4 linked regions of the Homo sapiens genome follow. The protein of the gene in region 4 purifies or fractionates together with the protein of the main gene of each other region. This does not show direct contact. Each region holds a gene or a part of one and is shown on either strand. Other genes may lie near its edges. The genes, in order: SCML2, HMMR, SLAIN1 and POTEB3.

The links.
Region 1: the proteins of POTEB3 (region 4) and SCML2 purify together in Homo sapiens (co-immunoprecipitation; 2 studies listed by BioGRID and IntAct, with this or other methods). This does not show direct contact.
Region 2: the proteins of POTEB3 (region 4) and HMMR purify together in Homo sapiens (co-immunoprecipitation; 2 studies listed by BioGRID and IntAct, with this or other methods). This does not show direct contact.
Region 3: the proteins of POTEB3 (region 4) and SLAIN1 purify together in Homo sapiens (co-immunoprecipitation; 2 studies listed by BioGRID and IntAct, with this or other methods). This does not show direct contact.

What each region holds. Positions count from the first base shown.
Region 1 is NC_000023.11:18,344,679-18,351,707, forward strand, and holds part of SCML2 (sex comb on midleg-like protein 2), read right to left. Parts: intron 1-7,029. UniProt on the Homo sapiens protein: Putative Polycomb group (PcG) protein. PcG proteins act by forming multiprotein complexes, which are required to maintain the transcriptionally repressive state of homeotic genes throughout development.
Region 2 is NC_000005.10:163,463,608-163,470,636, reverse strand, and holds part of HMMR (hyaluronan mediated motility receptor), read right to left. Parts: intron 6,782-7,029; coding exon 6,683-6,781; intron 5,915-6,682; coding exon 5,835-5,914; intron 2,937-5,834; coding exon 2,889-2,936; intron 997-2,888; coding exon 808-996; intron 1-807. UniProt on the Homo sapiens protein: Receptor for hyaluronic acid (HA). Involved in cell motility. When hyaluronan binds to HMMR, the phosphorylation of a number of proteins, including PTK2/FAK1 occurs.
Region 3 is NC_000013.11:77,700,677-77,707,705, forward strand, and holds part of SLAIN1 (SLAIN motif-containing protein 1), read left to right. Parts: intron 1-7,029. UniProt on the Homo sapiens protein: Microtubule plus-end tracking protein that might be involved in the regulation of cytoplasmic microtubule dynamics, microtubule organization and microtubule elongation.
Region 4 is NC_000015.10:21,437,481-21,444,683, reverse strand, and holds the start of POTEB3 (POTE ankyrin domain family member B3), read left to right. Parts: upstream 1-4,184; 5' UTR 4,185-4,672; coding exon 4,673-5,193; intron 5,194-7,203.

The sequences.
Region 1 (7,029 bases), on a different chromosome or scaffold from region 4:
AGACATGCCTTTCACCATGATTGTGAGGCCTCCCTAGCTAGGTAGAACTGTAAGTCCATTAAACCTCTTTTTCTTATAAATTGCCCAGTTTCAGGTATGTCTTTATCGGCAGCGTGAAAACAGACTAATACAAGGAGATATTATAATATACCAGATACCCTAGACAAAACGGATCCATGAGGGCAGGAGAAAACAAAAGTTATGTTCCCAGAGATTCAATGATAATGGTGTTGGCAGTGGTGATACTACTACTCAGATCTGTTACTTACTGAGCTCTTGCTATTAATGAATGCCTGGTACCCTACCCTAAGGCTTTTATATATGTATTTTTTCTTATCTAAAGCTTATTACAAGCCTGCATAGTAGATACTGTTATTAATGTCCATTAATGTTCATTTGAAAGTTAAGGATATTGAGGCTCAAAGACCTGCCCAAGATCACCCAGCTAGGTTTGAATCTAGGTTCATGAATGCTTAACCATTGTGCTAAAACTGCCTTTGTTGTGTTTAACTGTGTAAGTGCCTTTTCTCCCGTGCTAGACAATAAGCTCCTGGGGGCAGTATCACATCTCGTTCTTCTTTATATCCTTCAGAATAACGAGCACAGTGTCTATCACATACTAGGGTCCCCAAAATGTTTGCTGAATGAGTAAACTCTGCTGTGCTATAGGCTGCTTGTATCTAAACTATATAGAACCAGAATACTGTGGTTTTTAAAAACAATTTTTTTTTTGAAACAGGGTCTCTCTGTCACCCAGGCTGGAGTGCAGTGGAGTGATCATAGCTCGCTACAACCTCAACCTCCCCGGGCTCAGGTGATCCTCCCACCTCACCCTCCCTAGTAGCTGGGACTACAGGCACACACCACCATACCTGGCTAATTTTTGTATTTTTTGTAGTGACAGAGTTTTTCCATGTTGCCCAGGCTGGTCTCAAACTCCTGGGCTCAATGAATCCTCTTGCCTCAGCCTCTCAAAGTGCTGGAATTAGAGGTGTAAGCCACCACACATGGACTAAAACAATTTTTTGATAAAATTTTTCTTTTATTCTTTGTTTTGAGACAGGGTCTCACTCTGTTGCCCAGGCTGGAGTTCAGTGGCATAATCAGGGCTCACTGCAGCCTGACCTCCCGGCCTTAAGTGATTGTCCTGCCTCAGCACACCCCCTGCACACCCCCTACCCCCGACACACACACACACAAAGTAGCTGGGACTATAGGCATGTGCCAACAAGCTCAGCAACTAATTTTTTTTTTTTTTTTAATTTTAGTAGAGACGATGGCTCACTAAGTTGCCCATACTGGTCTCAAACTCCTGAGCTCAAATGATCCTCCTGCCTCAGCCTCCCAAAGTGCCGGGATTACAGGCTCACGTAAGCCACGGCGCTCGGCCGAGATTTTTCTTTTGGCCATCATTGTTGTTCTCTGTTCTTTCCTGCAATATCAAATCAGCTGTCTTAATTTACACACAAGTCTAAGTCAATGGGCCAAGGAGAAAATTCTGTGAGATCTGAGACAATCCCCCACCTCCAATATCTCTCTCTTTCCCAGAAGTTGATTGGCCTTTTTTTTTTACTCTGAATTTTATCTCTTTCTAGGATGTTCATGGTCTCAAAAAGTCAGGCTCCGTATGAGTTACCATTATAGAATTCAGTTTATAAATGCCAACTACATAACAGGTATAACTAAAACATGTGCTTTAAACCAATATTCACCAAAAAAAGAAACAACAAGCCAAGTCCCTATTCACAAAATAATCTATTGAAAAAAATGTTTCATCATAGCCCCTTGAGTTTATCAACAGCATAAGAAGTTTCAAGGATAAGAGAGATTCACAAATACGTTTGCTGGTGTTTTAAAGAAAATGTTGGAATAAGTGACGGAAGTTATTATACATACACAATTTACCAGAGATTAATTAAATAGCACAGGTAGAAAGGGTTCTTTTCCTTTTAAAATCTATCTTGTTATAAAGACACTACTTTTAGACTTGAACAAACAAAAACGCTGTCCTTTATTGTGAAGGGGAAGGTCTGAGTTAACTGCATAAAATAACACCTTTATGTTTTTAACTTGTAAATAGTTTATTATTTTGTTTCAAGAAGTACTTCACATTTATGCCTAAATGCAAAAAAAAATACTGATTTAATTAAAATACACTGTAGTTATGTATTTTTTCTTTGACCAAGAGAAGCTCTCTCTTTCAACTAAGATTTTGTTTCTGGTAATAGTGATTATCCTAATACAGGATAGAAAAAGTGTATATTCCATTGTATAACCATACATAATTTTGTGGAATTGAACATGAGTCATCACATTAAGATTCCACAAGTATCTATTCAATTCACTCAAGTAAATAATCAAATGTCACATTTTCTGACATAGTTATAAAAGTAATCAGAAAAACACTAAATTCTAATACTGTAATTACATTTAAAACTAAAATTCTATCTCTGAATTAAGACTAATCAATATTAAGAAAGAACAAGCCGGGTGCGGTGGCTCAAGCTTGTAATCCCAGCACTTTGGGAGGCTGAGGCGGGTGAATCACCTGAGGTCAAGAGTTTGAGACCAGACTGGCCAACATGGTAAAACCCCGTCTCTACCAAAAATACAAAAATTAGCCGGGTGTGGTGGCGGGCACCTGTAGTCCCAGCTACCTGGCAGGCTGAGACAGGAGAATCGCTTGAATCTGGGAGGGGGAGGTTGCAGTGAGCCAAGATAGTGCCATTGCACCCCAGCCTGAGTGACAAGAGTAAAATTCCATTTCAAAAAAAAAAAAAGAACATTTTTAGGCCGGGCGCAGGGGCTCATGCCTGTAATCCCCGCACTCTGGGAATACGAGGTGGGCAGATCACTTGAGGTCTGAAGTTCGAGACCAGCCTGGCCAACATGGCAAAACCCCGTCTGCGGTGGTACACACCTATAATCTCACCTACCCGGGTGGCTGAGGCATGAAAATTGCTTGAACCTGGGAGGCAGAGGCTGCAGTGAACCGAGATCATGCCACTGCACTCCAGCCTGGGTGACAGAGCAAGACTCCGTCTCAAAAAAAAAAAAAAAAAAAAAAAAAAAAAGAACATTTTCATCTCCATATTTCTGAAATCTGTAAAAAAAAATCAAAGAACATTTTTGGTAGCAATAATTTATCAAATCAAGCCTTCTTGAGGAAATTAAGGTTTCTAAAGGAGCAATTTTAAATTATGCTTTAGTAAAGAGTCCACCCCAACAAATTAGTAATTAATCTTTTTCTGTGTCAAAACAAACCTAAGAAGGCTTAACTATTTTCAAAAATTTCTAATTTAAGTTACCCCCCAAAAAACCTGTAAGTTAATCACTTGCAATTTCAAAATGATTTATGTGAAAGCTATGTATTTAGTGAAGAAGTATGTCATGTCAGAAAACAGATAAACGAAAGATAAGTCAAGGGTTGCCAAAATCCCAGTTTATAGTTGTAAATTCCTGAGGTTTTAAAGCACAGCTACAGGCTAACTGCCCAAAGACCTGCTACCCACTGACTTTTGTGAAGGACTTGAGTTAATGGCAGGGCATGTCAATATACTACAGGCAGCTAATGGTGCAACTTTTTGACAAAAGAACTGGATCTGGTTACAGGCTGTTCCTATTATCACTGCAGTCTAGATTTATGGTTTCTAACACCGGCCCTACAAGAAATAATGGAAATGATGACAACAACAATCCCCACTAGACAACAGACTGCAGAAAAGCATGCAATAAACCACAATCTGAAGAAACCAGAAAACTAAACATCCTTGAAAATACCTCAAACATGAGGCAGGTGTCAGCAAATTACCCATTCAAATATTTCTACAACTTCTCAAATTTCAACACAAAAAAAATCTCAAATCAGAGTCTCTAAAGTAATCTAAAACCAAACAATATCTAAATATACTTACTATTGCCTACTATATATTAATTCTTTTAATGACCAAAGATGCCGTGTTTCATTTGAACAGATTTATGAAACTCTATCAAGTTAGTTAAAAATTAATACTGACTATATTGCTTTTCAAATAACATTAAAGAGAAAAATACTCCAAATAACATTTTAAAAAATATTTCCAAAGAAAAAAAAGCAACAGTTCATAGCAAAGGGCACATGTTTCCAAATGTATTCAAAGAGGAAGAGAACTGAAAAGAAGAAACACATTTGATTCAGCATTTAAAAATAAATATATAATCAAACCTTAAACCAGCTAAAACTGATGAAAGGTAGGAAAAGTGGCCAAATGTTAACCAAAAAAAACAAGCACTTTGTCAATACACTTAAAAAACTATGTCAAGGCTATAAGGTACATACCAAACAAATGGAGCTGTTTGTCTATAATTCGCCACCAGTTAATCTTTATGAGAAACAGAGGTTGCGAAAAATCAAATGTGTATTCTAAACACAACCAAAGAGAGCCCCGCAAACTTTTCTCTGAGAAATGAAAGCATCTTCAAGGTATGCCCTAGAATTGTAATATATCTGTCCCTTCTGAAGTTTACAACAGTACGTTACCACTAAAAGTGGGCACTCTCTTTCCCCTCTTAAAACAATTTGCTCCTATAAACTTAGGAAGAGGCAGAGCCATAGCCATAAACACAGGTCACAAGTAGTAGGTAATCAAATGCTATCTTCAGTTTCCCAGGTCTTTACTCACAGCTTATTCTATAAGTTTTAACTCTTCAAATAAGGAATTCATGTAGTCTAGGTCAAATGATCATGATATTAAGATGAACAGCACCATCATATTCACTGCTACAGGATCCTCAAATATTTCACTTTTCACACAATAAGATATCTCCATTGCTTATGTTAACACCTCTCCAGGCTGGGCGTGGTGGCTCACGCCTGTAATCCCAGCACTTTGGGAGGCCAAGGCAGGTGGATCACTTGAGGTTAGAAGTTTGAGACCAGCCTGAACAACATGGTGAAACCCCGTCCCTACTAAAATTATTTTTTAAAAAATTAGCTGGGCATGGTTGCGCACGCCTGTAATCCCAGCTCCCCAGGAGGCTGAGGCAAGAGAATCACTTGAACCTCGGAGGTGGGGGTTGCAGTGAGCCAGGATTGTGCCACTGCACTACAGCCTGGGCAACAGAGCGAGACTCCGTCTCAAAAAAAAACAAACAAAAAAAAACCCAGTATTATTTCTAAGGTTGCCAAGGTAACCCTAGAAATAGACAACATAATGACAAAATAAACAAAATCGCCTTTCTCATGAAAACCAAAGAACACATACACATTTCAAATCTTGATAGCTTCTAAAATTTTTTCAAGTTATTTTTAAGAACCACCATTGGCAGGGCGAGGTGGCTCACGCCTGTAATCCCAGAACTTCAGGAAGCCAAGGCAGGAGGATCACTTGAGGCCAGGAATTCGAGAACAGCCTGGCCAACATGGTGAAACCCCATCTCTACTAAAAATACAAAAATTATGAAAAATACAAAAATTAGTGGGCATGGTGATGCACGCCTGTAATCCCAGCTACTCAGGGGCTGAGGCACAAGAATTGCTTGAACCCAGGAGGCAGAGGCTGTAGTGAGCCAAGATCACACCACCGCACTCCAGCCTGGGCAACAGACAGAGCAAGACTCTCAAAAAAAACAAAGGCCAGATTCGGTGGCTCATGCCTGTAATCCCAGCACTTGGAGAGGCAGCAGAAGTGGATGGATTACCTGAGGTCAGGAGTTTGAGACCAGCCTGGCCAACATGGTAAAACCCCATCTCTACTAAAAATACAAAAATTAGCCAGGCTCGGTGGCGCACGCCTGTAGTCCCAGCTACTTGGGAGGCTGAGGCAGGAGAATCACTTGAACCTGGGAGGCAGAGGTTGCAGTGAGCTGAGATCGTGCCACTCTACTCCAGCCTGGGTGACAAAACGAGACTCCATCTCGGAAAAAAAAAAAAAAAAAATTAGCTGGGTGTGGCGGTACATGCCTGTAGTCCCAGCAACTGGGAAGGCTGAGGCAGGAGAATTGCTTGAAGCCAGGAGGCAGAGGTTGCAATGAGCCGAGATTGCACCTGCACTCCAGCCTGGGTAACAGAGCAAGACTCCGTATCAAAAAAAGAACTACCACAAACTCTTTTTATAAATGGTAACCAAAGCCTAAGGTACTTAGAGTCTAAAAAATGTACTTACCACTAAATTATACCAGTATTTATATAATGGTATAAATTATGCCATTTTAATCTAAGATAAACGCCAGTGGTTTCTTTTATCTATTTCCCCAAGACAAAGAGATCCTGAATATTAAGCCCCAAAGCCAGGGAAGGGTATAAACTCTTCCTTCAAAATTACCAACACGGCCGGGCGTGGTGGCTCACACCTGTAATCCCAGCACTTTGGGAGGCCAAGGCAGGAGGATCACCTGAGGTCAGGAGTTTTGAGACCAGCCTGGCCAACTAGGTGAAACCCCGTCTCTACTAAAAATGCAAAAATTAGCTGGGCATGGTGGCACACCCCTGTAATCCTAACTACTCAGGAGGCTGAGGTGGGAAAATTGCTTGAACGCAGGAAGCAGAAGCTGCAGTGGGCTGAGATCACGCCACTGCACTACAGCCTGGGCAACACAGCGAGAGCCCATCTCAAAAAAAAAAAAACATCACCAACATTTGCCATTTTCAAAATGTCCAGGTTTTTAGTTCCTGGAATCAACAATCAGTTCAAATTCTAAGGTATTATGTAGTAATTCTCAGACATTAATAATGGTTCTAAAATTATTAGGGATGCTTGATTTGCCCACTGCAAACTACAAAACACCTTCTGGCAATGACAGACTAATCTTTGCACCACAGCTCATAGCTCTAAGGCTGATAGCTGGCAGAGCCCACTTTGTTCTTGTATATCCTAAAAATCAGGAATATGACTATGAGGAGACAGTGAGACCTACCCTCCCCACCCCGAGAGGGTAGCTAATAGAGAGGACCTCCGATTTCCATTCACAAGTGGAATGAGAATAGAGGGAGAAAAATGGCAGACAGAATAACCAGGCAAAAAAAAAAAAAAGACTAGAGGTGACTAATAA
Region 2 (7,029 bases), on a different chromosome or scaffold from region 4:
TCTCACTCTGTCACCCAGGCTGGAGTGCCGTGTTGCTCACTGCAACTTCCACCTCCCGAGTTCAAGCTATTCTCATGCCTCAGCCTCCCGAGTTCAAGCTATTCTCATGCCTCAGCCTCCTGAGTAGCTGGAATTACGGGTGTACGCCACCATACCTGACTAATTTTTGTATTTTTAGTAAAGATGGGGTTTCGCCATGTTAGGCTAGGCTAGTCTCAAAATCCTGACCTCAAGTGATCCATCCGTCTCAGCTTCCCAAAGCGCTGGAATTACAGGTGTGAGCCACTGTGGCTGGCCTGTTGGTTCATTTTTGAAAGGTTGTTTGGGTGGTCACTTACCTCTATATGCTGGAAAGTCCATTGCAAGACTCTAAAGCAAGTCCCTGAGAAAGGATTTCTTGAAACATGTTTGCTTAACAAAATGAATCTGAATCGCCTGGTGTATGTTGTTTTGTTTTGTTTTGTTTTTTGAGATGGAGTCGCACTCTCTTGCCTAGGCTGAAGTGCAATGGCGCCATGTCAGCTCACTGCAACCTCCACCTCCTGGGTTCAAGTGATTCTTCTGCCTCAGCCTCCCGAGTAGCTGAGATTACAGGCGCCCGCCAATAGGCCTAGCTAATTTTTGTATTTTTAGTAGAGACAGGGTTTCTCCATGTTGGTCAGGCTGGTCTCGAACTCCCGACCTCAGGTGATCCGCCTGCCTTGGCCTCCCAAAATGCTGGGAACACAGGCGTGAGCCACCGTGCCCGGCCCTAAAAAACGTGTTTATATTTATTCAATTGTAAATATTATCATGAGGCTCAGATACCTTAGATTTTAGTAGTTCATTAGTCCTGGTCAATTCAATAAGTTGTTTTTCCAGTGTAGCATTATTTGCAGAGAGAGATGTTTTTTCCCTTAGTGCAGCATTTAGCCTTGCTTCCATCTTTTCCAACTCAGTTTCCAGATCCTGGATCCGCCTGTCCTGGGCACCACGTTCCTGTAGAAGAACACGAATCTGGACAAAAACAAGGTGATAATAAATGATTCACTGATAGAATGCCAACATAAGGAGATGCTACCAATAATCACCCCTAAAGTTTCTGGAAAAATCTCTGATTTTGACATTATGCTTGTAGATATTCTAATGTTACTAGCTATTTGAATAATCATATTTACCTATGATACATCTTAAAAGTCTTAATGCATTTTAAGAACATAAGAACTTTAGTTGCCATAAGTTCCAAGTACAATTAAGCTATCTATTCACTTTTTTTTTTTTTTTTTTGAGATGGAGTCTTGCTCTGTGCTCTGTTGCCCAGGCTGGAGTGCAGTGGCACGATCTCGGCTCACTGCAAGCTCCGCCTCCTGGGTTCAAGCGATTCTCCTGCCTCAGCCTCCCGAATAGCTGGGACTACCAGCACGGGCCACCACACCCGGCTAATTTTTTGTATTTTTAATAGAGACGGGGTTTCACCATATTAGCCAGGATGGTCTCGATCTCCTGACCTCGTGATCCACCCGCCTCAGCCTCCCAAAGTGCTAGGATTACAGGTGTAAGCCACCACACCCGGCCGCTATTTATTCACTTTTAAGGTATTTCCACCTATAATAGTTATTTTCTCTAGCTTCAATTACACAAATTCAAATTAGCTTAAAATGCTAAATGTTTTTTATTTCAAGAAGGCAGAGCTGGGCTTCTGAGGAGAATGTACTAGGCATTGGCAAGCCATCATTCTTGCTGCTATTACCAGATTAAAAAAACAAAAAACAAAAAAAAACCCAAACCAATATTTGTCAACAGAAAATGTGGAAGCCAAAAGACAATGAAATGATATTTTTAATATAATGGGGGGGAACCTGCCACCCTAAAATTCTATACCCAATGAAGTCACTGGTGTAAATTATTAGTTCTAATCCTGGCTCTACCACTCACTTACCAGCTATCTCACTGAGACTCAGTGATTATTCCTGTAAGTATCAACCCCTACATGTACCCTCAGTAAAATGATAGCTAACATTATTAGAATACATAAAAAAGAATCAGAGCAACTGAGCAGACATTTACAGTTACTCTGACATACTCTTGGTTGAAAGCCAACATTCGACTGTAATCAAATGAAAGATTTTAATATATTGAAAGAATATATCCATGAGGAAAAGAGTTGGTCAGCAATGGAAACAGAAAAAAAAGACTGCAGAGAAGCAAAGTTCACAGTGAGCTGCTTAGCATTGCTAGGAAAGTAAATGGGTTCTTTAGGTTAGTACTGTTCAATAGAAATTTCTGTCATGGTGGAAATGCCCTGTCCAGTATGGTAGCTGCCAATCACATGTGGCTACTGAGCACTTGAAATGTGATTATTGCAACTGAGGAATTGAGTTCTTATTTAATTTAGATCATCACATGTGGTGAGTAGCTACCATATCAAACAGCACAGCTCTATGTTATTTCACCCATGAGGAAGGCCTATACCTATTGTGCAGAGCAATGCATCGAGTTAGCCTAACTTCATCACAGTCTAACCAGCTAGGATTGCATGCTCACTAAGAAATCCTCTAGCTATGTTGTGTTAACATAAGTTAGCATACAGGAAGACTGTGAACGATGGATAGATATAAATATTTGATCCACATATATAATTGTAATCAACTGACATAATGATTTTTCAGTTATCAGTTTTTCATTAAGTGGGCTATCTTTAATCTCGGCGTTGCCAGCATACCACATTAACATAGCCCGGATAGATCTGTGAAATACTGTAAGAACTGTTTTCCTGTAGGCACTGTTCTGGATGGCATGTTTGCCTCACTGCAGGACTCCTCACACTGCAACAGAATCCTTATCTCTTAAATCTGTGTAACTCTCTTTCTATCATGTGTACTTTTCACTAAGTTTAAAGCACTGCTTACCTCTTTCTCTAATATCTTCAAATCTTTATCATTCTTTTGAGATTCCTTCTGTTTAAAAGCCAAAAAAACTTATAAGCAAATTTAGATGTCACAGATATGACAGCCAAATTTGTTTTTCAGTTATCAGAAAAGATGAAGGGATCCAATCAGTTAGTTTCTATTTTAAACATTACACTGTTAAACATTGTGTAGGCCACTCATCTGATAAATAAAATATTCTAAAAATCTCAAGACATTTTAGGTTTAGAAATTTTCAACCCAATAAATCAGGATTTTCCTAATCAGCCCAGTGAAAAGAACAGGTGGAACTTTATGAATAAAGCTACTGACTGCCTCCCTCTAATGTTAAATAGCAACACATCTTGAATATTTAATTATGCTATCTCAGAAAGAATCTTACAAAGAGAAATCGACTTAAACTTTGATACCCGAAGAGGAAAATATACAGATGCAAAGAAATAAAAACTGAAACAGCATAAGCTCTGATTCTAATTTTCTCATTGGCTTTATTCTAAATAAGACATATAATTTTCACACTATATCTTTTTATATCCAACAGACTTTCTGACACAATGGCTAGAAAAAGAATATCTTTTCCATCTAAAAATGGAAGAAAGGCATCAACATCTTGAATGAAATCTGTTTCAGATGTTTCTAAGTGGGGCAGGAGGTGGGGGTGACATCAGTGTCATGTTTATTAATTTCACACTCCATGAAATTTTTTATGGGGAAGGACTATTATTTTGGGGCTCCATACAAACTTGTATGTAATTTAGTTTTCTAAGGGGCTTTATAAATTACAAAATTACAGAACAGTTTCTTCAAGAAATTTAAGTCAAACCACTTACATCAATTTCTAAGAAAAGAGTGTCTATAATAGTCCTGCCCAATAAAAATAATGCAAGCCACCTATGCATTTAAATTTTTCTAGTAGTGTGTTTAAAAAGTAAAAATCTTAATATATTTTATTTAACCCAACATATCAAATATATTTTTTCAGCATGTCATTGGTATAAAATTATCAATGAGATGTTTTATATTTTTGTACTAAGTCTTTAAAGTTTTCTTTGTATTCTACACTTATAGCACGTCTTAATTCAATGCTAAATTTTCATCAGAAATGTTTATGTATATTTAATTTCATAAAACATAGAAAGGAGAAAGTAAATTCACATACTCAAGTTGTTCCAAAAATATTTAAAAGCGTTCCACTAACAAAATCGAGTATGTCTTTAAATATGTATTAATTAAAATTAAATATTAAAAATTTAGTTCTTTAATAGCACTAGCCACATTTCAGTTGCTCAATAGACACATGTGGCTATGCTTCCATACAGAACAACATAGCTCTATATTACAGAATATGAGGCTTAGGCAACTGCCAAATGAATGAACAACCTAAGCCTTTTTCCAACTCTGAATATTTTTCACATCAAAAAACCTATTAATTTGTACAACTTTTTTACTTTATTTTTATCTTTGAGATAGGTCTCGCTCTGCTGCCCAGGCTGGAGTGCAGTGGTGCAATCTCTCGGCTCACTGCAACCTCTGCCTCCCTAGGTTCAAGCAGTTCTCCTGCCTCAGCCTCCCGAGTAGCTGGGATTACAGGTACGTGCCACCACACACGGCTAATTTTCTTGTATTTTTAGTAGAGACGGGGTTTCACCATGTGGGTCAGGCTGGTCTCGAACTCTTGACCTCAAGCAATCCACCTGCTTCAGCCTCCCAAAGTGCTGGGATTACAGGCGTGAGCTACTGTGCCCGGCTGTCTTTTTTTTTTTTTTTGGAGAGACTGAGTCTCGCTCTGTTGCCCAGGCTGGAGTACAGTGGCACCACCTTGGCTGACTGCAACCTCTGCCTCCCAGGTTCAAGCAATTCTCCTGCCTCAGCTTCCCAAGTAGCTGGGACTACAGGCACGTGCCACCACGTCCAGCACATTTTTGTATTTTTTAGTAGAGATGGGGTTTGACTACATGTTGGCCAGGCTGGTCTCAAACTCCTGACCTCAAGTGATCCACCTGCCTTGCCTCCCAAAGTGCTGGGATTATAGGCGTGAACCACTGTGCGCCCCCCAGCTGTCTTTTAAAAAGTATTATATGGCGGCTGGGTGTGGTGGACAACACCTGTAATCCCAGCACTTTGGGAGGCCAAAGTGGGCTGATCACCTGAAGTCAGGAATTCAAGACCAGCCTAGCCTGCCCAACTGGCTAATATGTTTAAACCTCGTCTTTAGCAAAAACACAAAAAGTAACTGGGCGTGGTGGGGCGTGCCTGTAATCCCAGCTACTGGGGAGGCTGAGGCAGGAGAATCGCTTGAGCCTGTGGGGACAGAGGCTGCAGTAAGCTGAGATGGCGCCACTGCACTTTAGCCTGGGTGACAGAGTGATACTCCATCTCAAAAAAAAAATACATAAATAAAATTTAAAAAGTACTATGCAGCTTGCCTGTTTATAAACTTATGAAAAGAGTAATAGTAGCTCTTGCACAAGCCACAAGACTATTAAGAATTTAATCTCTCACCACTCCTTAACAGTTTCTCAGTAGCAAACCTCTCTTAGATATTGGCATTTTTTCCCACTTTTCTTCAAAAACACTTACCCTTCCCCACAAACAAATACACAAAAACAAAACAACTCAAATGGTGGTACTTAATAAATCAAAGCATCACATAATTTTGAAATGTTTACTAGGTAATGAACAATTTAAACATAGAAGTGATTGAGAATTGAAGACCATTATAATTGTGAACTAAGGGCACATTTAAACATAATGACCTAGGCAGAAATGTAAAACTTGCTAGAGTTCTAATGATAACTCATTTCATTAATTTACAGATTTACTTATAACCTTGATTCATACACTTAACCCATTCTAATCAAATACAATACTTTCAGATGTTTTTGATGATACACTTGATAAACCAGCTGGCATATAAAAGCTCCTCACCTTTGATTCCGAAGACTTAACTTTTCTAGCTGAAGCAGGCAAGGTAGTATCTTTGTCAACATTAAGATTTTGTTTAGATTCTGCGGAAAAATGAATTGTACAGATCATGGTTGATGTCAATGTGTTTTAACTACACACAAAACACAATTTCCAAATTTTTTTGTCTTTCTCTTTTTGTTTGTTTTTGTTTTTTGAGACAGTCTCACTGTCACCCAGCCTGGACTGCAGTGGTGTCATCTCAGCCCACTGCAACCTCTGCCTCCCAGTTTCAAGCAACTCTCCCACTTTCCTCCCTAGTAGCTGGAACCACAGGCGCACCCCACCACACCTGGCTAATTTCTGTATTTTTAGTAGAGATGGGGTTTCACCATGTTGGCCAGGCTTGTCTCGAAATCCTGAACTCATGTGATCCACCCACCTTGGCCTCACAGAGTGCCAGGATTACGAGCACGAGCCACCTTGCCCGGCCCCAAATTTCTAATTACAACTTTTGATGAAACAATATATTCTTTCCTTAGTTGTACATTTTCAAATAATTACTCATACAATTTTTTTACACATCTAACACCTTTCTGATTTTCCTAATATTCCCTGACAAGTCAAGGTAATTACCAAAAGGGAAGCTACATATCAATATAAGTATCTTGCTTAATTTTCCTGGTTATATAACAATGTAATGATGACAGCATTATTCTGTACTTGACCCTTTCATAAATCCATCAAATAAAATTTAAATATAGTTCTAGCTTCACATTTTAAAAAATGCTATAACATCTTTAAATATTGTTATTCATAACTTTAAAACTTATAAGATCACATAACCATTGTTCTTTGGTGATCTATATTACCTTTTTGTTGTTTAAATCTTTGTGATTTCTGAAAGGATACTGGTCCTTTCAATACTTCTAAAGTTTTAACATCATAAGCACCTGGAGATGGTGCACAACCTAGAGGAAATAGAAAACATTAATATATTATCTAATGTTACTTATGATCTTAAGTTAAAACATGTCATAATAAAGTGAATATAAATGTAAAAATGTCATTAACAAACTGCTTTTTTTAAATGTAAAAAATTGCATCCATTTGATATTACAAAGAAGGCCTCTCTATGAAGAACAATATCATCTTGCCCTTTATATCAACCGGGTCAAAGGAACACAGGCAACTGAGCAAACGACAGTTTTGAGATGAA
Region 3 (7,029 bases), on a different chromosome or scaffold from region 4:
TAGTGTCCCAGTAGTGTGGTCTCAGAAATAAGAGTGCTGTTCATTTGGTTCCCTGATATGTTTGCAGGATGGCAACTTATTTTTATTTCCTGTGTTTATTAAGAAACAACTGGAGTGGGTATATAGTACCTTATTTTAAAAATATTTAAAACTACAAGTTTTACATGCTCATTGTAAAAAAACTAAAACATAGATGTAGGTATAAGGTCACAAAAATTATCTTCCTTGTCCCCAATTTATTACCGTGACTCAGAATTCACCCTGTTAATACTCTGCAGCTCCTTCAAGATAAAAAAATATAATTACAACAATCAATATACAAACATATACACATCAGTTTTTTTTAACACTTGCCTTTCATTGAACATACATTGGACATTTGTGTATTCATGTGACATCACATCTCCCAGTAACAAAGGCATCATTATTAGAGTAACAATATTAAGGAACAAGTTACTGTTAACTGTATCACCTACAGTTTTTCATGCATTTTTTATTGTGATTTCATCCTAATGGGTTGAACAAAATGTGTTTGCTTATTTATTTAGAATAGCACTTCCTGCTAAAAATGTCATAAGTTCAGGAAAGTTTACAAATGTAGATTAATCACTGGATATTTTAGCTATTCTTTTATGTAAGTATATCTTTTCTAATAAAACCTTAGAATACATTATTTTCCTTTTATTAACAACTTGGACAATATTTGGGTTAAGAGTTATGTGTGTAAGGAAAATCATGACTAACAGAACCAATATTTTCTTTATGATAGTTCATTAGTTAATGATTAACCAGGTCTTTGAGATCATTTTTCTGAATAATTATTTAACCTATAAGTAGTATCTTAAAAAAAACAGCTTTAAAGAGAATGGAGTGTTATGCTCTCCCTTTTGACAAAAAAGCTTTGATGAAACAATTTTCTTATTTCTTTGAATATTTATCTTAATTGAATTTTAAGTCTTGAATGTTGCCTTAATACTACCTGATTATCTTAGCACAGTATTGCTGGAATTAAGTGTCTCAGAAAGTTAAAGTTGATGGCAATTCCAGAACCTGAATTCTTTCTTTCTTTCTTTCTTTCTTTACTTATTTATTTATTTTTTATTATTATACTTTAAGTTTTAGGGTACATGTGCACATTGTGCAGGTTAGTTACATATGTATACATGTGCCATGCTGGTGCGCTGCACCCACTAACTCATCATCTAGCATTAGGTATATCTCCCAATGCTATCCCTCCCCCCTCCCCCCACCCCACTACAGTCCCCAGAATGTGATATTCCCCTTCCTGTGTCCATGTGATCTCATTGTTCAATTCCCACCTATGAGTGAGAATATGCGGTGTTTGGTTTTTTGTTCTTGCGATAGTTTACTGAGAATGATGATTTCCAATTTCATCCATGTCCCTACAAAGGACATGAACTCATCATTTTTTATGGCTGCATAGTATTCCATGGTGTATATGTGCCACATTTTCTTAATCCAGTCTATCATTGTTGGACATTTGGGTTGGTTCCAAGTCTTTGCTATCGTGAACCTGAATTCTTAAGTCATCTTATAGCCCTATAGTAAAACTCTCATCCTGCTATACTGATTCCTCAGTTATCTTACTAATTTGATAGGCTTAGCTCTCCAGAAGGCCATTGGCTAGAAAGGAAAAGGGAAAAGTCTGAGTATCAGGAGCAAATAAAAAGCTCAAAGGGACTAAAATATCCATGCATACATGGGACACAGTGTGATTGGATGCTTTTTCTATCTTTATGGAAGAAATGTTTTTAAGATTTATATTTGTCCTAATGTCACCAGGCTCTGCAGCACCAGAGTACAAACAGAGTAATTCAGATTGGTCTGAAGTGGCAATGGGAGCCATTAGCTAACTGCATACTAGACCTTCCTATGACCTGTTTCAGCCCTCTTATTTCAGTGTTGAGGGACGGGAGCTCTGAGGCAAAATGGCTTATGTAAGCTCTTCTAGTTACTGATAGAGTTCAGACTAAAAATCAGATTATTTGTCCAGATTCAGAAGTGTTTACATCACTGATATTTTTTTTTCCCCAGAGCTAGCTGTGTAACTCATTAGTAAGTTTATAAAGTCAATTTAGTGGATTGACCAGCATTTTAAAAAAGTGAAGTGCAGTAGAATAGAAAATCAGAGTTTATCACATCTTATAATACAATGCTTGCTTTGATTAAATATGTTTTAGTTTTATAGATGTGGAAATATTAAACGTATTTTTGCATTATGATCAAAGTTAACAAAACTCTATACTGTTTGAAAGCAAAACGGAGAAAGCAGGTGGAAAAGCACTGAAGATAGTATAGTACTCTGAAGGGAAGTTAGGTCTTGCACACCTCAACCAGGAAGATGGTTCTATATGAGAAAATGCCACGATAAAAATAAGTCAGCCAATATAAAATGCAGCCATATAAGGAGGCTTTATTTTAGTAGAATGACAATTAACAGAACATTGAGACTATATAAACAGGATGTGGCAAGGATTTTTAACTTTCCCAACTGGGAAAGACAATGGAAAAGTTGTTAATTATACAAGGAAAAATGGTGACTTGTACAAATTAAGAAAAATTTAATGAATGAGATATTCATCTTCCACATGTAATACCAAGACCCCAGACAGCTGGCTAACATCATTGCCAATTTTTCATCAAAGCTGTTGAACACCTTGTGCTATACATATGGCACAACTAAATTAGACCACCTAAACTGTTTTTTGCATAATTGATTTTCAGTGAAAAGACCAGAGGGTGCTTCCCTTTTTGACAGTGCTAATTGAAAATGTACAATGTTTTCTAGGAGCAAATGGAGTTGACTGAAGTGTATGACGTGTGTTTGAAATAAGTAACTTTTAAATGTTGAAGTGAGGTGCTGAAGTAGTTTACCTGCAACTGGGCGAGGCAGGGTTGGGGGTGGAGGGAAAGTTTGTTATAGGACAGCTTAGTAAGTAACGCTTGAACTTCATGTATCCTTTTAAGAGCCTGTTGGAACTAAGTATTGTAGTGGCTATCTAGTTTGATCCTAGCAGGTGCCAGTGACTCAAACACTGTTACAGAGAACTAAAGATTCGTTGATCGTGCTTATTAGTGTTGATGTTTCAGCTTTCCTTAAAATAAAACTTGCAGAGATTGAAGGCTCTTAAAATTATTTGTCTGAAAATTACCACATATTACTTTTCAGTGGCAGGTCTAAAAAAAAAAAATTATATATATATATATACACACACACATATATATTTTTATATGTGTATATATACACATATAAAATATATATACATATGTTTTATATGTATATATATACATAGAAAATATATATACATGTTTTATATGTATATATATACATAGAAAATATATATACATGTTTTATATGTATATATATACATAGAAAATATATATACATATGTTTTATATGTATATATATACATAGAAAATATATATACATATGTTTTATATGTATATATATACATAGAAAATATATATACATATGTTTTATATGTATATATATACATAGAAAATATATATACATATGTTTTATATGTATATATACATAGAAAATATATGTACATATGTTTTATATGTATATATATAGAAAATATATACATAGGTTTTATATGTATATATACATAGAAACTGTATATACAGAGGTTTTATATGTATATATACATAGAAACTGTATATACAGAGGTTTTATATGTATATATACATAGAAACTGTATATACAGAGGTTTTATATGTATATATACATAGAAACTGTATATACAGAGGTTTTATATGTATATATACATAGAAACTGTATATACAGAGGTTTTATATGTATATATACATAGAAACTGTATATACAGAGGTTTTATATGTATATATACATAGAAACTGTATATACAGAGGTTTTATATGTATATATACATAGAAACTGTATATACAGAGGTTTTATATGTATATATACATAGAAACTGTATATACAGAGGTTTTATATGTATATATACATAGAAACTGTATATACAGAGGTTTTATATGTATATATACATAGAAACTGTATATACAGAGGTTTTATATGTATATATACATAGAAACTGTATATACAGAGGTTTTATATGTATATATACATAGAAACTGTATATACAGAGGTTTTATATGTATATATACATAGAAACTGTATATACAGAGGTTTTATATGTATATATACATAGAAACTGTATATACAGAGGTTTTATATGTATATATACATAGAAACTGTATATACAGAGGTTTTATATGTATATATACATAGAAACTGTATATACAGAGGTTTTATATGTATATATACATAGAAACTGTATATACAGAGGTTTTATATGTATATATACATAGAAACTGTATATACAGAGGTTTTATATGTATATATACACACATAAAATATATACTTGTGTGTATACATATGTGACTGTACCATTTGTTTTTTGTATTATCTGCAAAAAGATGACTTTAGAACCAAATATTTTGAGAATAACTGAGACTTTGTTTTCCAGACAGTTGTCATACTTCATTGGAAACATTCAGGGTTATCATGGGCTTTATATTATTTTTGTTCTCCCAGCATAGAATGTGATGTGTATGGAAAAGAAGGGGTTCTATGAGAAGGATAGTAGTTTCTGGTGTGTGTGGTTTGGAAGCAATTTAAGAAAAGTTAAAGAAAATTAGAGTGACATTCCAAATAGTAGTTTGAAATGTATATTTCAAATATAATTTGAAGAATTCTGAAAATTTAGATTAAGACTTTTCAGATGCTCTTGCCAGAATCCAATATACCATTAATGAAACTACTGAAGTTGAAAAAAATGTTTATAAGTCACTAGAATGTATGATGTACTAATGATGGCCAGATAGGACATTGTAAATGTTACTTGCATTCTAATGACATTGAATAAAGTGATTTTTAAAATGACTTTTTGGAGGGTTAGAGCTATATAGGAGAAATACAGATTTTTTTTTTTTTTTAAAAACCTTGCCTATCTAATTTTGGAGCTGTGTTGTACTCAAGGAGTTTTTAGCCACATGATCTCTATAACTAGTTTTTTGTATTATCTGCAAAAAGATGACTTTAGAACCAAATATTTTGAGAATAACTGAGACTTTTTTTTTCTAGACAATTGTCATACTTCATTGGAAACATTCAGGGTTATTGTGGGCTTTTTCTTTCTTTAAATCCAGCTCTAGGCCAAGTCATAGAAACACTAGGCTCAAAGCTATCCTGCTCACTGTCAGGAGACTGACTCTGAAAATGATCACTTCTGTCTTAATGCCATACATTTGTATAGCACCTCAACAGTTTTATCAAAATAATATAATAACATGTTAGTAGTTTTCAAAACTCCCCTTGTTAGGCTTATTACAGGAAGCAGTCCTCTACTCCCTCCTCCTGCTGAGTCCTTCACATAGGCATCACTTTATACTCTACTAGCTGTTTCTTTTTCCTAAACAGTCTTTATACTTTTATGATCTTAGACATCTATGGACTTATTATGAAAGAAGAAAACTTAGCTCTCTTCCTCTCACCCTTGACTACCATATCTCTTTTCCCTTCTCATAATGGTTTTTATGGTTTTTCTTTTATATTTAATGTCTGCATTATGATTATAATTTACTAGCTAAGTCCTGTTAATTGCATGTTAAACATGTATTTTCTCTGACCCCTTTGTTCCTCCAAGAGTTAGTAATGGCACTTCTTCTCTCCTCTTCACTTTCTTTAATTACCTATCAGAAATTATTTCCCCAAACACGCTAAAGGAGCCATAAAATCCCTCATTAAGGTCATACACATTTGGCAGTCTGTTAAATCTGCTTTTTTAAAATTTATATTGTAGTGCTATCCCCTCTGAAACTCTTAATCTCATTGCTCTAGTTTTTACTGTTTGCCCCCTAAGCTGGATGCATACTGCTGTTGCCATGGGAACTCTTTCAGTTTCTTGGCAATGTGGATTCCCTTCTTCTTAAATCCTTTTCGTTTGTATTTTTTTTATTCTCTTAGGTGGGGCACAGCCTTCAATAGCTTTCTGAGAAAGGAGACCTGCAGGAGAGGCACACTTTGAGATCCTGCGTATTTGAAAATGTCATTGTTCTGCCCTTACATAAGATTCATAGTTGGACTGGCTATAAAAGTCTAAGTTAACCTTTCCCTCATGTTTGAAGGCACTGTTCCATTTTGTTCTAGCTTCTGTTATGTTCTAGCTGTTGAGTGCACTGTGTTTGGATATCTAATCCTTTTTGACTTTTTCTTTTGCTTCCTTTATTCCTAGTATTCTAAAATGTCATGTTGTACCTTGGTATGGGTTATTTTATTTAATATACTGGACATTCGTGCACACTTTCACTCTAGAATTGCATGGCCTGACTTCCACTCTGGAAATTTTCTTGCTCTTTTTTTTTTCTTCAAAATAACTTTCCAGTTTCTTTCTTTTCTTTCTTTCTTTTTTTTAAGAACTTGTAACAGACAGATGTAGGTCATTCCATCTGGCTTAATCACTTGATTTTCTTATCTGTCTTATCCCATTGCTAATCTGTTTTTATTTTGTTTTCAGGAGACTTCTTCAACTTGATATTCCAAACTCATTTACTGACTCTTTTGTTTTTGCTATGATAGTTTCATTTCCCAAGCATGAATAAACTGTTTTTTTCAATATCCATGTGTATGTGTGTGCTTGTGTGTGTGTGTGAATGTAACATTTTCTTTTAGATGATATAAATTATATTCGTCTTGACATTTTCATCTGTTCCCTGCATTGTTTTTCTCTTTGGTTCTCTTTACTCCCTCTACTTTTAGTCTCAGTGTTTCATGTAAAAGGAATATTTCACATATTTGGTGTCACTGGTTGTCTGTTCATACCCAAAGGAGGTGCCGAAGCCGATCTAAAGCTCTTAATGGATGGAGCTCCTTGGTGCAGTTTACTAGTGATTGGATGGGTAGCCAGGCCACATTCAAGCATCTCTAGGTCTTCTCTTGGATTCATCTTTTTCTCTATGCATAAACCTTCTATACTCCTAGGA
Region 4 (7,203 bases):
AAGTGCATTGAAAATTGTAAGTGTGACAGAAAGGTCACCACTTGATTGCTACTATTATATCGTTTTATTATTTTGTTCTCCCAACAATGTATAGCTCAAATTTATACTACAGGCTGTTCATATCCCTTAACAAAATATCCATTAATTTATGAATTTGATAAAATTCTAACTTACTGCAGTGCCCTACAAATAATAGTTTGGCCCATCTGTGGTGATGACTGTTCTGGAAGATCTTTCTGATGTTGAATAACTAATATTGTGTTTCAATGTTACTATTAGGTTGGTGCAAAAATAATTGCGATTTTTGCCATTAATCACAACTACATTTGTGCGAACCTAATAGTAATTTAACATTCTGTATCTAACATTTGTGGACACTGATCGAATATGCAATATTCTGGGGAGAAGTTGGTGGAAGAGATGTGTGTTGTTTTGTGAAAGATAGTATTCTGAGGGAAGGCAGAAAAGGGATATACATATAAGAAAATAGTGGATCTTGATCAGATGCACACTTGTTCCTATTTACAAGAAGTCTACTCTGTGTTACTGAACAAATCAACTTACATGAAGTCAACTAATTCCAAAGAATTTACCGTCTAGAGAAATTCACATTTGTAATAATAAATACTTTTCTTAATGACAGAAATTTTATAATATGTCTTTTTTACTTTATAGCTATAACCGTAGAGTTATAAAATCTAAATACAGACAAGCCTACCCAGTGTTTGATTATATTCAATGATGTTTAAAAGTAATGGCCTCTCTTTTGTTCTTACTGGGAAAATTATCATTAGCACAGTGCTTCATGCAGGCTCTTATTACTTCTATCTCCCATTGTTATGATTGGCAAAGCACAAAGCCATACTCAAATTGGAATGCTTGGGCACATTGCAGTATTTATCACAGGGTGGACTGGATACTGAGTTTCTTAATTTATAAATATTTCTTTCCAATGCAAAATTCATGAAGGCTTAATGTTGGGAAATGTCTGAATGGCTATAAATTCCCTTCCTAATTCCCTCCCCTCAATGCATACCCATTTTTTTTTGGCTCATTCTTAGAACTGTAGCTGTTCTTGAATCTTTGATGAGTTGAAGCTAATCCACATTCGGATTTTACAATCTCATATAATTGCCAAAATTCTACCCTTCAAAACACTTGTTTCTTTCTTTTTTTTCTCTTACATTTCCTCAAAGAAAATTAGTGAAAAAACAATTTTTTATTTGGTCTGAAACTTTATGGTGGAAATCTGAGGACAGGAAGAAATTTAGGGACTTGTTCATGCACTTTTGATTTGGCGAATGCCTGGAATATATTTTTTTCTCTCTGCACAATGCAAAGTAGTTGCACTCACAAAGTATCAATTAGAAAAAGAAATTCTTTCCACATTTCATCAGAGTTTTAAGTGGTTACACCACAATAATCCCCAGCTATTTGGGAAATGGTAAAAAAAAAAAAAAACAACTTTGAAGATCAAGCCATCATTATTATTTTCACTAAAACCTAAAAATTCAGCCACAATATGTCAAACCAGTTGGGACAGGACTTCCTTCCACTAATTTAGTTTTTACTGCTGGATACCTGATGGGCTACTTACTATATCAGGTGTCTCATAGGGCAAATTGTACCTGGAGATAAAAAAAAGAAGAAAAAAACAGGCTCCACCCCCTAGCAGCAGAATACAGCAGAACATTTAGGTACCCACAGAACATAAACCAAAATGGACTGTATCCTGGATTTTAACAAACATTAAGAATTTTTTAAAAACTGAAATCCTGTAGAATGTATCCTCCAGCCAAAATGGCATCAAATTAAAAATATAAAAGTAAAATAACAGCAGAATCTTAAATACTTGAAAAATAAACAGCATACTTTTTTAGTTCTTTTTTTTACATTTTTATTTATTTTAAGTTCTGGGGTAGGTGTGAAGGATGTGCAGGTTTGTTACATAGGTAAATTTGTGCCATGGTGGTTTTCCCTACCTATCAACCCATCACCTCGGTTTAAGCCCAGCATGCATTAGAGATTTTTCCCAATGCTCTTCCTCTCCCTCCCCCATCCACAGGCCCCAGTGTGTGTTGCTTACTTCCCTGTGTCCATGTGTTCTCATTGTTCAGCTCCTACTTATAAGTGAGAACATTAGATGTTTGGCTTTCTGTTTCTGCATTAGTTTCCTGAGGATAATGGCTTCCTGTTCCATCCATGTCCCTGCAATGGACATGATCTCCTTCATTTTTATGGGTGCATAGTATTCCATGTTGTATGGGTACTGCATTTTCTTCATCCAGTCTATTACCAATGGGCATTTAGGTTGATTCCATGTCTTTGCTATTGTGAATAGTGCTAAACAGCAAGCACACTTCTAAGGAGAACGTCTCAAGGGAAACAATTAAATATATTAAACTGAATAAAAATAAAAATACAACATATCAAACTTGATTTAACACAGTTGACGTCAGTGCTGAGAGGAAAATGTATTTCACTAAATATATATAATAGAAAAGTAGAAATCTCTCAAATAAAAATTCAAGCTATCACATCAAGAAAGTAGAAAATAGTAGCAAAATAAAATCAAAACAAATATAAGAAAGAATATAATAAGGATAAGAGCAGAAATAAATGAAACAGCCAAAAGAAAACAACAAAGAAAAGCAAAGAAATAAAGCTGGTTCTTTGAAAATATCTATAAAATTGACAAACCTTAACTAATAATGATAAAGAAAAAAGGGATGTCATAAATTACCAGTTTCATGAATGCAATGGGCTAACATTAGCAGTAGAACTCAGCAATGTACACAAAGAATTACACAGCATGTCCCAGTGACGTTTACTCCAGTGACTGCACACCTAGACATTCATCCCACTGAAATAAAAACTTTTTTTTTGCACTTGCAATTGGCTTCCCCTCTGCTTTTGTTGGCAAGAGCAGGTCGGTGTCCCAGGCTTAGAATCCATTTTTCTCTCTCTCCGTCTGTCTCTCTGTCTCCGTCTCTGTCTTTGTCTCTGTCTCTCTCTCTCTCTCTTTCTTTTTTTGACAGAGTCTTGCTTTGTCACCCAGGTTGCAGTGATGCGATCTCGGGCTCACTGCAAGCTCCGCCTCCCAGGTTCACGCCATTCTCCTGCCTCCCGAGTAGCTGGGACTACAGGCGCCCACCACCATGCCCGCTAGTATTTTGTATTTTTAGTAGAGATGAGGTTTCACCGTGTTAGCCAGGATGGTCTTTATCTCCTGACCTTATGATCCGCCCGCCTCAGCCTCCCAAAGTGCTGGGATTACACGCGTGAGCCACAGTGCCCGGCCAGAATGCATTTTTCCTCCCACACCAAAGCACCTGCAGTATGGGTGAAGCAGCCTGGAGCCTGGCTGCATAAGCCTGCACAGCAGGAGGGTCCCAGCAGGAGGGTAGAGGTGCCACTGCCTGGGTCCAGCTCACAGGCTGCCAGGGAGGCTCCGATCTGGCTCCCTGGTGCTGGCAGTGTCCTGTTCCCAGGATCTGCACGTGGGGGTGCCTTCCTGCATCTCCCCATCAGTGGTAGGTGCTCCTCCCAGCCCCCTCTTGCAGGCCTGGAGACAGCGGCCTGCACCTCAACCCTACTGCATGCCAGTGAAGCGAAGCACCCCGGGCCAGAAGCCCCACAGCTGTTGGCCCTGGTTTGGACACCAGGCAGGGGGCACCACAGCAGGAGCTAGCAGCCCAGCCCCGATTCTGTGGCCCCGAGTGCCCCGTTGCTGATGGCCCTGTGTTCTGGGTGCGGACCAAGGAGGAGCAGGTGTGGAAGGCGCCTCAGGCAGGCCCTGGGCTCCGTGGGCGTCTTGTGCTCGGAGATTTTGAGGCCATTTGCATCCAGCTCCGCCAACCAGAGCTCTAAGCTGCAGCGGCGGCCACCCGCAACAGCGCCACCACTAGTGTCTTGGGGGCTTTCTTCAGAGGAGGCTGTCAGCATCCTCGAGTTCCAGGCGCTCTAGCCCCAGTCCTGCTTCAAGAGGCTTTTTCCCACCACAGGCTTCTCTCCTCAGTGGCCAGAAAGCTGGGCCAACTCCCATGAACTTTGCCAGTAACGCAAGGCTGTCACTGACATTTGTGGCGCCAAGACTTGCGCACGCGGATTGCACACATCGGCCACTTCCTGGACCACGTGCAATGACACGCGCACGCCTCACGCACACGCCGCATAACGTCTGAGGCGCGCGCCCCGCACGCGCGCCCCGCACGCGCATAACGGCTTGGCTTACCTGTAACGGGTACACTTCGCTTCGCGTTCCTCGCTTGGCCTTGCGTTCCTAGCTTGGCTTGGCTGTTAGTAGCTTTGCCTGGTGTTTCTTGCTTGGATTGGCGTTTCCTCCCTCGCATTCCTTTGCTGGACTTGACCTTTTCTCTGCTGGGTTTGGCATTCCCTTGACTGGGCTGGGTGTTTCCTTGGGAGGGGGGGCTTGGCCTTTCCTGGGGTGGGCGTGGGGTCCCCCTGGTGGGCGTGGGCTTTCCCCGGGTGGGTGTGGGTTTTCCCTGGGTGGGGTGGGCTGGGCTCCCTTGCTGGGCTTGGCAAGTTTTGGCTGGGATTGACCTTTCTCTTCAAACAGATTGGAAACCCAGGGTTTCCTGCTAGTTGGTGAAACTGGTTGGTAGACGCGATCTGTTCGCTACTACCGGCCTCCCCTGGCTGTTAAAAGCAGATGGTGGCTGAGGTTTGTTCAATGCCCGCTGCCTCTGCTGTGAAGAAGCCATTTGATCTCAGGAGCAAGATGGGCAAGTGGTGCCACCACCGCTTCCCCTGCTGCAGGGGGAGCGGCAAGAGCAACATGGGCACTTCTGGAGACCACGACGACTCCTTTATGAAGACGCTCAGGAGCAAGATGGGCAAGTGTTGCCACCACTGCTTCCCCTGCTGCAGGGGGAGCGGCACGAGCAATGTGGGCACTTCTGGAGACCATGACAACTCCTTTATGAAGACACTCAGGAGCAAGATGGGCAAGTGGTGCTGTCACTGCTTCCCCTGCTGCAGGGGGAGCGGCAAGAGCAACGTGGGCACTTGGGGAGACTACGACGACAGCGCCTTCATGGAGCCGAGGTACCACGTCCGTCGAGAAGATCTGGACAAGCTCCACAGAGCTGCCTGGTGGGGTAAAGTCCCCAGAAAGGATCTCATCGTCATGCTCAGGGACACTGACATGAACAAGAGGGACAAGCAAAAGAGGTAACCGGGCCTGGGATGGGAGGAGGCGGGACATGGGGGGATGATGGGGACATACCCTCCTGGCGCAGGGAGGGAGGAGCCAGGCTTTCTCTTCCTCCGCAGGCCCCACACCACCCTGGGTGTGGAAACCTCAGAGATGTCAGGGCCCAGGTCCCTTTATAAACAGCAACACAAAAACAAAACTTTAGCTGATTTCCAATCCAATTATAATTTCCCTTATAGAACACTAATAGACGGTTTTAAAGTGATTTAACTCGCAAAATTAAGTCGATGCAGCAGATTATTTTTAATGTACACATTTTAAAACAATGTTCTATACACTATAGAAAGGTGTATATTGAGAACTAAGTCCCATAATATATCAACTTCTGGGCTAAATATTTTTCAAATAAAATCCAATATGGATTTTATATCGATGTGTACCCTATGTAAACACGTTCTTTACTGAGTAACCTTAAAAGGAAACTGAAATGGGAAGTATGGTTCATATCTTTGAATAGGAAGGTTCGTTTTTCTTAAGATGTGAGCTTTTTCTGTGTTTATCACTTTTACATAAGCCAAATAAAAATAGCAAAGTCTTAGTGTCTTTAAATTGCACATGATGTATTTTATCATTGTGATAAATTGATTTTTTGTAACAGAATGGAAAAAGACTTGCTTTTCCAGATATCAAAATGTGCGTGTGTTATTTCCACAAATTGTTTACTAACAGCTGAAAAGACATAAGTGAACAGAACAGAATAGGAAATCCAGAAATACCCAAATATATGTAAGAATTTAGCACTTGATAATGGTGATGTTTCATATTGGTAAAACAAGGTGAATTATTCATAAATTAAATGCATGCTGTTTGGAGAAAACTACCTAGATTTTTATGTCACAAAAATAAGTTCCTGGAGTATAGATTAAAAATTTTAAAGATACAAAAGGAGAAAAGTACCAGAAGAAAACACAAATGCCTATTTATATGTGCAAATATTTATTTATTTTTCTGAGACAGACTCTCACTCCATAGCCCAGGCTGGAGTGCAGTGGTGCAATATCAGCTCACTACAACCTCTGGTTCCTGGTTCAAGTAATTCTTTGCCTCAGCCTACCAAGTAGCTGGGATTACAGGCACCCACCACCATGCCTGGCTAATTTTTTGTGTTCTTAATCAAGACGGGATTTCACCATCTTTGCCAGGCTGGTCTTGAACTCCTGTCCTTGTGATCCACCCACCTCAGCCTCCCAAAGTGCTGAGATTACAGTCATGAGCCACTGAAACCGGCATATATATGCAGATATAATAAAATAAGCTCAATTTAAAATTGGGCAAGGTACTTTTTTGCATGTCTACCAGTGACCTGTGTACATAGGAAAACATAGCATTCCTGCTAAGAGAAGGAATTTAAGTTAGAAGAGGAATGAAAGACTATTTTCTGTTTAAGTTAGAAGAGGAATGAAAGGCCAGCCATGGTGGCTCATGCCTGTAATCCCAGCACTTTGGGAGGCCAAGGCAGTTGGATCACGAGGTCAGGAGTTTGATACTAGCCTGGCCAGCATGGTGAAACCCATTTCTACTAAAAATACAAAGAATTAGCTGGGCATGGTGGCATGCACCTGTAATCCTAGCTACTCAGGAGGCTGAGGCAGGAGAATTGCTTGAACCAGGGAGATGGAGGTTGCAGTGAGCTGAGATTGCACCACTACACTCCAGCCTGGGTGATGGAGTGAGACTCCATCTCAAAAAAATAAATAAATAAAAATAAATAAATAAATATAAAGGAATGAAATACTGTTTTGTGTCCACAAAGTTTGTGAGGGTGAAGAACAGTGGTACTTATATACCTGCTGAAAGTTTAAGTTGCTGCGACTTTTCAAATAGACACTTTGATGGTAAGAACCACATTTTTAAAATGTGTATGCCTTTTACCCATCTGTTCCATTATACCGAAATATCTATATGAAACAGACACAGCTGTTTTTCTTAGTATTGCTTAAAATAGCCATGTATTGAGAAGAACTCAT